Homo sapiens: one gene and its partner. The protein of the gene in region 2 purifies or fractionates together with the protein of the main gene of each other region. This does not show direct contact. Each region holds a gene or a part of one and is shown on either strand. Other genes may lie near its edges.

What was found. The genes of interacting proteins can lie anywhere in the genome.
Region 1: the proteins of ITGA8 (region 2) and ARFGEF2 purify together in Homo sapiens (affinity purification with mass spectrometry; one large-scale study listed by BioGRID and IntAct). This does not show direct contact.

What each region holds. Positions count from the first base shown.
Region 1 is NC_000020.11:49,029,571-49,033,222, forward strand, and holds part of ARFGEF2 (brefeldin A-inhibited guanine nucleotide-exchange protein 2), read left to right. Parts: intron 1-2,478; coding exon 2,479-2,596; intron 2,597-3,452; coding exon 3,453-3,629; 3' UTR 3,630-3,652. UniProt on the Homo sapiens protein: Promotes guanine-nucleotide exchange on ARF1 and ARF3 and to a lower extent on ARF5 and ARF6. Promotes the activation of ARF1/ARF5/ARF6 through replacement of GDP with GTP. Involved in the regulation of Golgi vesicular transport.
Region 2 is NC_000010.11:15,639,824-15,643,475, reverse strand, and holds part of ITGA8 (integrin alpha-8 isoform 1 preproprotein), read left to right. Parts: intron 1-3,652. UniProt on the Homo sapiens protein: Integrin alpha-8/beta-1 functions in the genesis of kidney and probably of other organs by regulating the recruitment of mesenchymal cells into epithelial structures.

The DNA.
Region 1 (3,652 bases), on a different chromosome or scaffold from region 2:
ATGAAACATAGTCATTAAAAGTGAATTTTTTTTTTTTTTGAGACGGAGTCTTGCTCTGTCGCCCAGGCTGGAGTGCAGTGGTGCAATCTCAGCTCACTGCAAGGTCCACTTCCTGGGTTCAACCAATTCTCCTGCCTCGGCCTCCTGAGTAGCCAGGATTACAGGCGCGTGCCACCATACCTGGCTGGTTTTTTGTATTTTTAGTGGAGATGGGGTTTCACCATGTTGGTCAGGCTAGTCTCAAACTCCTGACCTCAGGTGATCTGCCGACCTCCGCCTCCCAAAGTGCTGGGATTACAGGCATGAGCCACCGTGCCCAGCCTAAAAGTGAATTTTTTTTTTTTTTTTTTTTTTTGAGACAGAGTCTTGCTCTGTCACTCAGGCTGGAGTGCAGTGGCGTGATCTTGGCTCACTGCCACCTCTGCCTCCCGGGTTCAAGTGATTCTTCTGCATCAGCCTCCCGAGTAGCTGGGACTACAGGCGTGTGCCATCACACACCTGGCTAATTTTTGTGTTTTTAGTAGAGACAAAGTTTCACGATATTGGCCAGGATGGTCTTGAACTCCTGACCTCGTGATCCCCCCACCTCGGCCTCCCAAAGTGCAGGGATGGGCGTGAGCCACTGCGCCCGGCCTAAAAGTGAAATTTTTAAGAAATAATTTTACTTAATGTGGGAACTTTTTCATAATACAATAATTTTTACCCCAAAAAAAGCTGCAAAAGTGTTTTTACTTGGAATTTTCAGCAATTGGGGCATTTTATTTGTTTTTTTAGAGTCAGGGTCTTGCTATGTTGCCTAGGCTGGTCTCGAACTCCTGGGCTTACGAGCTCTTCCTGCCTCAGCCTCCTGAGTAGCTGGGACTACAGGCGAGCAATTTTTCTTTTGAAATCTTAGCAAAAAAAAAAAAAACTGGAAGGAAATATGCCAAAATATTGTCATGTATCCCTTAGAATGATGTAGCTATTTTTCTTTATAATTTTTTTCATAATTTTTTACATATATCAGTTACCTTACAATGAGAATAACAAGTCATAAAGTGAAAAAAGAATTAATTAATTAAAGGAGGCACCAATGGCTCATTTCAGCTTAAGCCCAAAAGACAAATACCTACAGTCTCATAAAGTTTCTCTAAAGGAGATATGTAGGGCCGGGCGCGGTGGGTCACATCTGTAATCCCAGCACTTTGGGAGGCCGAGCCAGGTGGATCACAAGGTCAGGAGTTTGAGACCAGCCTGGCCAACATGGCCCTGTCTCTACTAAAAATACAAAAATTAACCAGGCATGGTGGCAGGCGCCTGTAATCCCAGCTACTCGGGAGGCTGAGGCAGGAGAATCACTTGAACCCAGGAGGCAGAGGTTGCAGTGAGCCAAGATTGTGCTGTTGCACTCCAGCCTGGGCAACAAGAGCAAGACTCCGTCTCAAAATAAAAAAAAGAGATATGTAAATGTCAAGTTTTTGGCATGTTTTTTAAAAAAGCAATTAAATGTGATTGTGAGGAGAGAAAGGCAGTTATATAATTATGAGTAATAAGCTCTTGTGCTACAGACATTGATTGAGTTCAGCCCTAGCCATGTGCCAGGACTGAGCCAAGTTATGACTTAACATATTTACTTCATTTAATCCTCACAACAACCCCTTGAGTTTGGACTTTTTTTTTTTTTTTTTTTTTTTTTTTTTGAGATAGTCTCACTCTATCGCCCAGGCTGGAGTGCAGTGGTGCAATCTCAGTTTACTGCAACCTCCACCTCCTGAGTTCAAGTGATTCTTGTGCCTCAGCCACCTGAGTAGCTGGAATTACAGATACGCACCACCACACCCAGCTAATTTTTCTATTTTTAGTAGAAATGGGGGTTTGCTACATTGGCCGGGCTGTCTCGAACTCCTGGCTTCAAGTGATCTGCTTGCGTTGGCCTCCCAGAGTGCTGGGATTATAGGCATGAGTCACTGCACCTGGCCAGGCAATTTTTTATCTCCATTTTATAGCTGAAGAAACTAAGGCTCAGTGATTTGCCCAAGATAGCACAGCCAGAGTGGGTGCTCAATAGTTATTGCAGTGGCTGGGCTCAGAGGCTCAGGCTCACATCTATAATCCCAGCACTTTGGGAAGCCAAGGCAGACAGATTGCTGAGCCCAGGAGTTCAAGACCAGCCTGGGCAACGTGGTGAAACCCCATCTCTACTAAAAATCAAAAAAATTAGCCAGGCATGGTGGCGCAAGCATGTAGTGTTAGCTGCTTCAGAGGCAGAGGTGGGAGGATCAGCTTGAGCCCGAGGAGGTCAAGGCTACAGTGAACCTTGATCACACCACTGCACTCCAGCCTGGGCCGCAGAGCAAGACCCTGTCTCAAAAAAAAAAAAGTAATTAAAAAAAACATGTTAAAATAATTTTAAAAATAGCACAAGAATGAATAGTTCTCCCCTGAATGTGAGATGTTAATCAATTGTTTGATATGCCTCCCCCTCTCTAATTCTTCTAGTGTTTGCAGTGAAGCTCTTGCCTATTTCATCACTGTGAATTCTGAGAGCCATCGGGAGGCCTGGACAAGTCTCTTGTTGTTACTTCTAACTAAAACCCTCAAAATAAATGATGAAAAGGTATGAACAAGTAAACTCTGACCAATTTTCACTAGGACATAAAGTTTGGGTTGGCTTTTTACTCAAGAGTTTGCAGTAACTATTTTCTCAGTTCTCCCAAGGATGGTTACGTGACTAGCACCATTCTAGATGCATTGGAGAGAAGTTAATCCGTTATGGACAATGGGTGCCACAGGATATTAGGGCTTTTTGCCTGGAAGAACAGTAGTTGAGAACGGCTGAAGTGTAGACCTCATGTGTTGCTGTTAGGAATGGTATGGTGAGTTTCAGTGCAGGAAGAGAGGGTTAAGATTGTGAAGCACCAGTTTTGACCTAGGAACCTGCTTTACAAAATAAAAGAGCTGTTGACTTTTGGCAGCAAGACTATCCAAATTTAATTAAAGTTAAATATAACTGAAAGAAGCTTTAATTTGCAAGGTTTCTTCAACTTCTTTTTTTTTTTTTGAGACAGAGTCTTGGTCTGTCACACAGGCTGGAATGCAGTGACGTAATCTAGCTCACTGCAATTTCTGCCTCCCAGGCTCAAGCGATCCTCCCACCTCAGCCTCCTGAGTAGCTGGGACCACAGACACGCGCCACTATGCCCAGCTAAGTTTTTGTATTTTTGGTAGAGACAGGGTTTCACCGTGTTGCCTAGGCTGGTCTCGATCTCCTGAGCTCAAGCGATCCACCTGCCTCGGCCTCCCCAAGTGCTGGGATTATAGGCGTGAATCACTGCGCTCGGCCCCAACTTTCTAATAGCAAGAAAAGCACCAATATTGTAATAAGTTCCAGGGTGAGATTAACACTTCTGAAAAACTGGTGCCCAAAAAAAAAAAAAATTGTCTAATTTTATCTGTTTCTCTCCCACCTCAAGTTCAAAGCACATGCTTCAATGTACTACCCCTACTTGTGTGAAATTATGCAGTTTGACCTGATCCCTGAGCTCCGAGCAGTTCTGCGGAAGTTCTTCCTACGGATAGGTGTTGTGTATAAGATATGGATACCAGAAGAGCCATCACAGGTACCAGCAGCACTGTCACCAGTGTGGTAGCCCTGGCTGCCCAGGCCAGTGCT
Region 2 (3,652 bases):
AAACCCCGTCTCTACTAATAATACAAAAATTAGCTGGGCATGGTGATGCATGCCTGTAGTCCCAGTTACTCTAGAGGCTGAGGCACAAGAATCACCTGAACCCGGGAGGCGGAGGCTGCACTGAGCCAAGATCGAGCCACTGAGCTCTAACCTGGGCGACAGAGTGAGACTGTCTCAAAAAATATATGTATCTCTTCCAGCCATATTTTGTGGTTTTCCAAAGATAGACTGAACATTTTAAAGTGGAGAAAAAAAGAACTGGTTCATGATAGGAACCATAACTATTCTTGATTTACCTAATTCACATTGAAGGCACATGGAAAGCCATGAGGCACAGGTAATTTATGTATTGTGCATGCTATATGAAGACATTGATTTGTCTTAAAAGATTATTTCACTGTCCAGGTTTTTTAGCAGAGAACATCAGACTTCTTGGTTTTAGGGTTTGATTTTCACTTTTATGTTTAAGATGGTTTCAATAAATACTTAGAAGTCATTAATAGTTAAATGACAGTTTCAACTACTTATAAAAACCTTGTCTCTTTCCACTAGCCCCTCCCCTGATTGGGAATTTTCCATATGTAGAGCTATTTTTTGGTTTGGGGCAGCATCCAGTAAGCTGACTGCCTAAATATACATCATTAATTTCAGGCCTTTGGCTTTCTTCTCTCCTCTGGGATTAGACAAAAAGGATACCGCAACATATTCTTATAAATTTGCCATAAACCTTTTATGACACTAATGGAGACGTCATAGTGGGCTCAAAGTGGATTTGGTATTATATCGTATACTAATGCTTCCTACCTGTGGCAATTTCAAGAACATCTAGTTAAATTTATTTTCTTAGGTTACATTATGCTAATCAATGGTGGTTAGTTGTTATTACTGGGGAGAGGTTTGTATACATAATATATCCAAATTTAAAATAATTCAAAAATCTAGGTCCCTTATGTAATTCCTACCCCAAAAATGTCAGGGTGATTAATGAAATTCAACTCCTGGGTTGCATTTTAGGTAAACAATTAGAAAGTTACTGCTATTTATTATGGTAGTCATAGGTCTCCTTCCCACCCTTAGTACCAGGAAAATTGACAGAAAGGCTGTGCCTTTGATGAGGCAAAGGAAATAGAGGATGTATCCATCACATAGCCAGTCCTTTGACTTCCTTCCAAGGCTAAACACGTCCCAAATGAGAGCCAGGAAGGACAGAGGCATGAGTCAACTTTTCTCCCCAGGAATACTCCCTTCAGGGAGAAAAAATTTAAAAGCAGCAGGAAGGGAAAAGGAAGCTAAAGTCTGTGCAATGTTAGTAATTGATTACCTCTTTTTTTCTTTTCCTTTTTTTTTCTGAGACGGAGTCTTACTCTGCCCTCAGGCTGGAGTGCAGTGGCACGATCTCAGCCCACTGCAACTTCCACCTCCTGGGTTCAAGCGGTCCTCCTGCCTCAGCCTCCCAAGTAGCTGGGACTACAGGCGTGTGCCACCACACTCAGCTCATTTTTGTAGTTTTAGTAGAGATGGGGTTTTACCATGTTGGCCAAGATGGTCTCAATCTCTTGACCTCGTGATCTGCCCACCTCAGCCTCCCAAAGTGGTGGGATTACAGGTGTGAGCCACCACATCAGCCGATTACCTCTTAATTATGTCTTTTTCTTCCCTTAATCAGAAATATTCACTTGAGGCCATGTGCTAGTCAACAACTTTGCTGAGTCTGATGCAAATTATAATAATCAGACATGTCAGTGCTGTGCGTCTTGTCTCTGAAGTAAATGTTCTTTACTAAGGCAGGCCCGTCAATGCTGCTTGGTTGAATTTATCCCTCAAGAGTCTTGAGGCTTTCAGAGTTCATCCATGCATCTTGGTAGACCTGGGTTCTGGCGCCAATTCTGTCTCTCAAATAGGAATATGGATATCTTGTGATTCATGATTCTATAACATTTTTCCCTGATCCTCATCCTCTAGCAAAAAGAATGCCATTCAAAGAAGCCTTTTTAACTTCATAGCAAGATCCCAGGACCTACAGAGAAGAAACTGCCTTAGAGGCAGGCGACTAGATTCTCTTATTACAGTTGATTGAAAGCTGCAGGCCAAATTCAGGAATCAGACATGTAACTTTCTTCATTTTTCTAGAAATGAATTCCATTTAGCTTTCAAAGCCTCCATTTCCACCATGGTAGAAAATGATGATCTTGCAATCACTTCTATGTTTAGATTTAGTCTTATTTAGGTAAGTATTTATTCAGATTCAAGACCCCTCAGCCAGCCGTGGTAGCATGCACCTGTAGTCCCAGCTACGCAGGCAGCTGAGGCAGGAGAACTGCTTGAACCCAGGAGGCAGAGGTTGCAGTGAGCCGATATCGCGCCACTGCACTCCAGCCTGGGCAACAGGGCGAGACTCCATCTCAGAAAAAAGACTCTTTTTCTCCACCCTGTGTAGCTACCCTCCCAAGGAATGAAATAGAAAGGGGTTTACCTGTTGTCCAGCGACTGGGAAGAGATATCTGGCTCACACCCATCATCTGCTATTATTGGCTTCAGACTAAAGGGTAGCTCAGTCCCTTGTGGCCTTTGGGGCATTGCTCAAGCTTCTGTGGCTCGTTCCATTGTCTGTGTAGTGACCTCTGCTCAAAATTTCCCTGTGTCCTGGGCCCTCTTCGTCCTCTGTTAGCCTCTTTCAGTCCCCTTTTAGCAAATGCTTCTGAGCCACTGTTAGGACTCAGACACGCACAGGCTGGGTATTCAGGTTTCTGTGATTGCCCTCAGGCTTATCTACCTAGATTTTCCTTAGCTGTTGCCAGTTTCCACCCAGGCATCTCATTGCTCCAGCCCCTGATTGAGCTGCAGTCTTGTGATGTTTTGCCTGGGAAGTAACAAAAGCCCTCTTTCCCCTAAAGGTAGTTGGATGGCATGCTTTCTAAACCCTATAGTTCAGTCAGTAAATGCTACGTTCTAGGCCTCCATGACTTGTTTTGTGATTTTTCCAAACCAGTGCTTTTTGGAACTTAAAAAGATAAACAATTTCTTTCACTCTGGGGTCCTGCTTTTTCAAATCAAAAGCACTTTGCCTTTCAAATTATGAAGTAAATACACCTGAGAGCGATAACATCAGCATACCCCAAAATGACCCTGGGTGGCACACACACCCCAATGTGGCTGGGAAATCTGAGCTACGGAATCTGGGAGTGGCCAGCCCAGAGATCCATTCCTTGTCTATGAGGAAGACCTGACACCCAGGTCGGTCCCGTGGAACACGGGCCGTAGAGGGGATTGAGGCCCTTTGTTTTTGGATTAAATGAAGGTTGCCAGGTGGAGGTTGTCAGTGGGAGAGTACTAAGTGAAGATGCTTTATAAACTGCATGCCTTTTGCAAGCGGTTGCAGTTCTCTTGCCCAGCCCTCTACCCCCGGACTCTCTGCCCTGTACGTAGGTCCTCAATGAAACCTCATGTCTCACTTGCTGGCTGTTTTTCAGCCTCTTGAACATGCTGCCATCCCCAATGGAGTTGATAAGGGTTTGCACAACACAGATTACTGTGCCTTCTGAGCTTCACAATCTATTCAACAAATTGACTTCCTCCCTCTGAAATCTATCTCATCATCCTTTATAAACAGGGGTTCGCAACCTTGGTTGCATATTAAAATCACGTGGAAAGC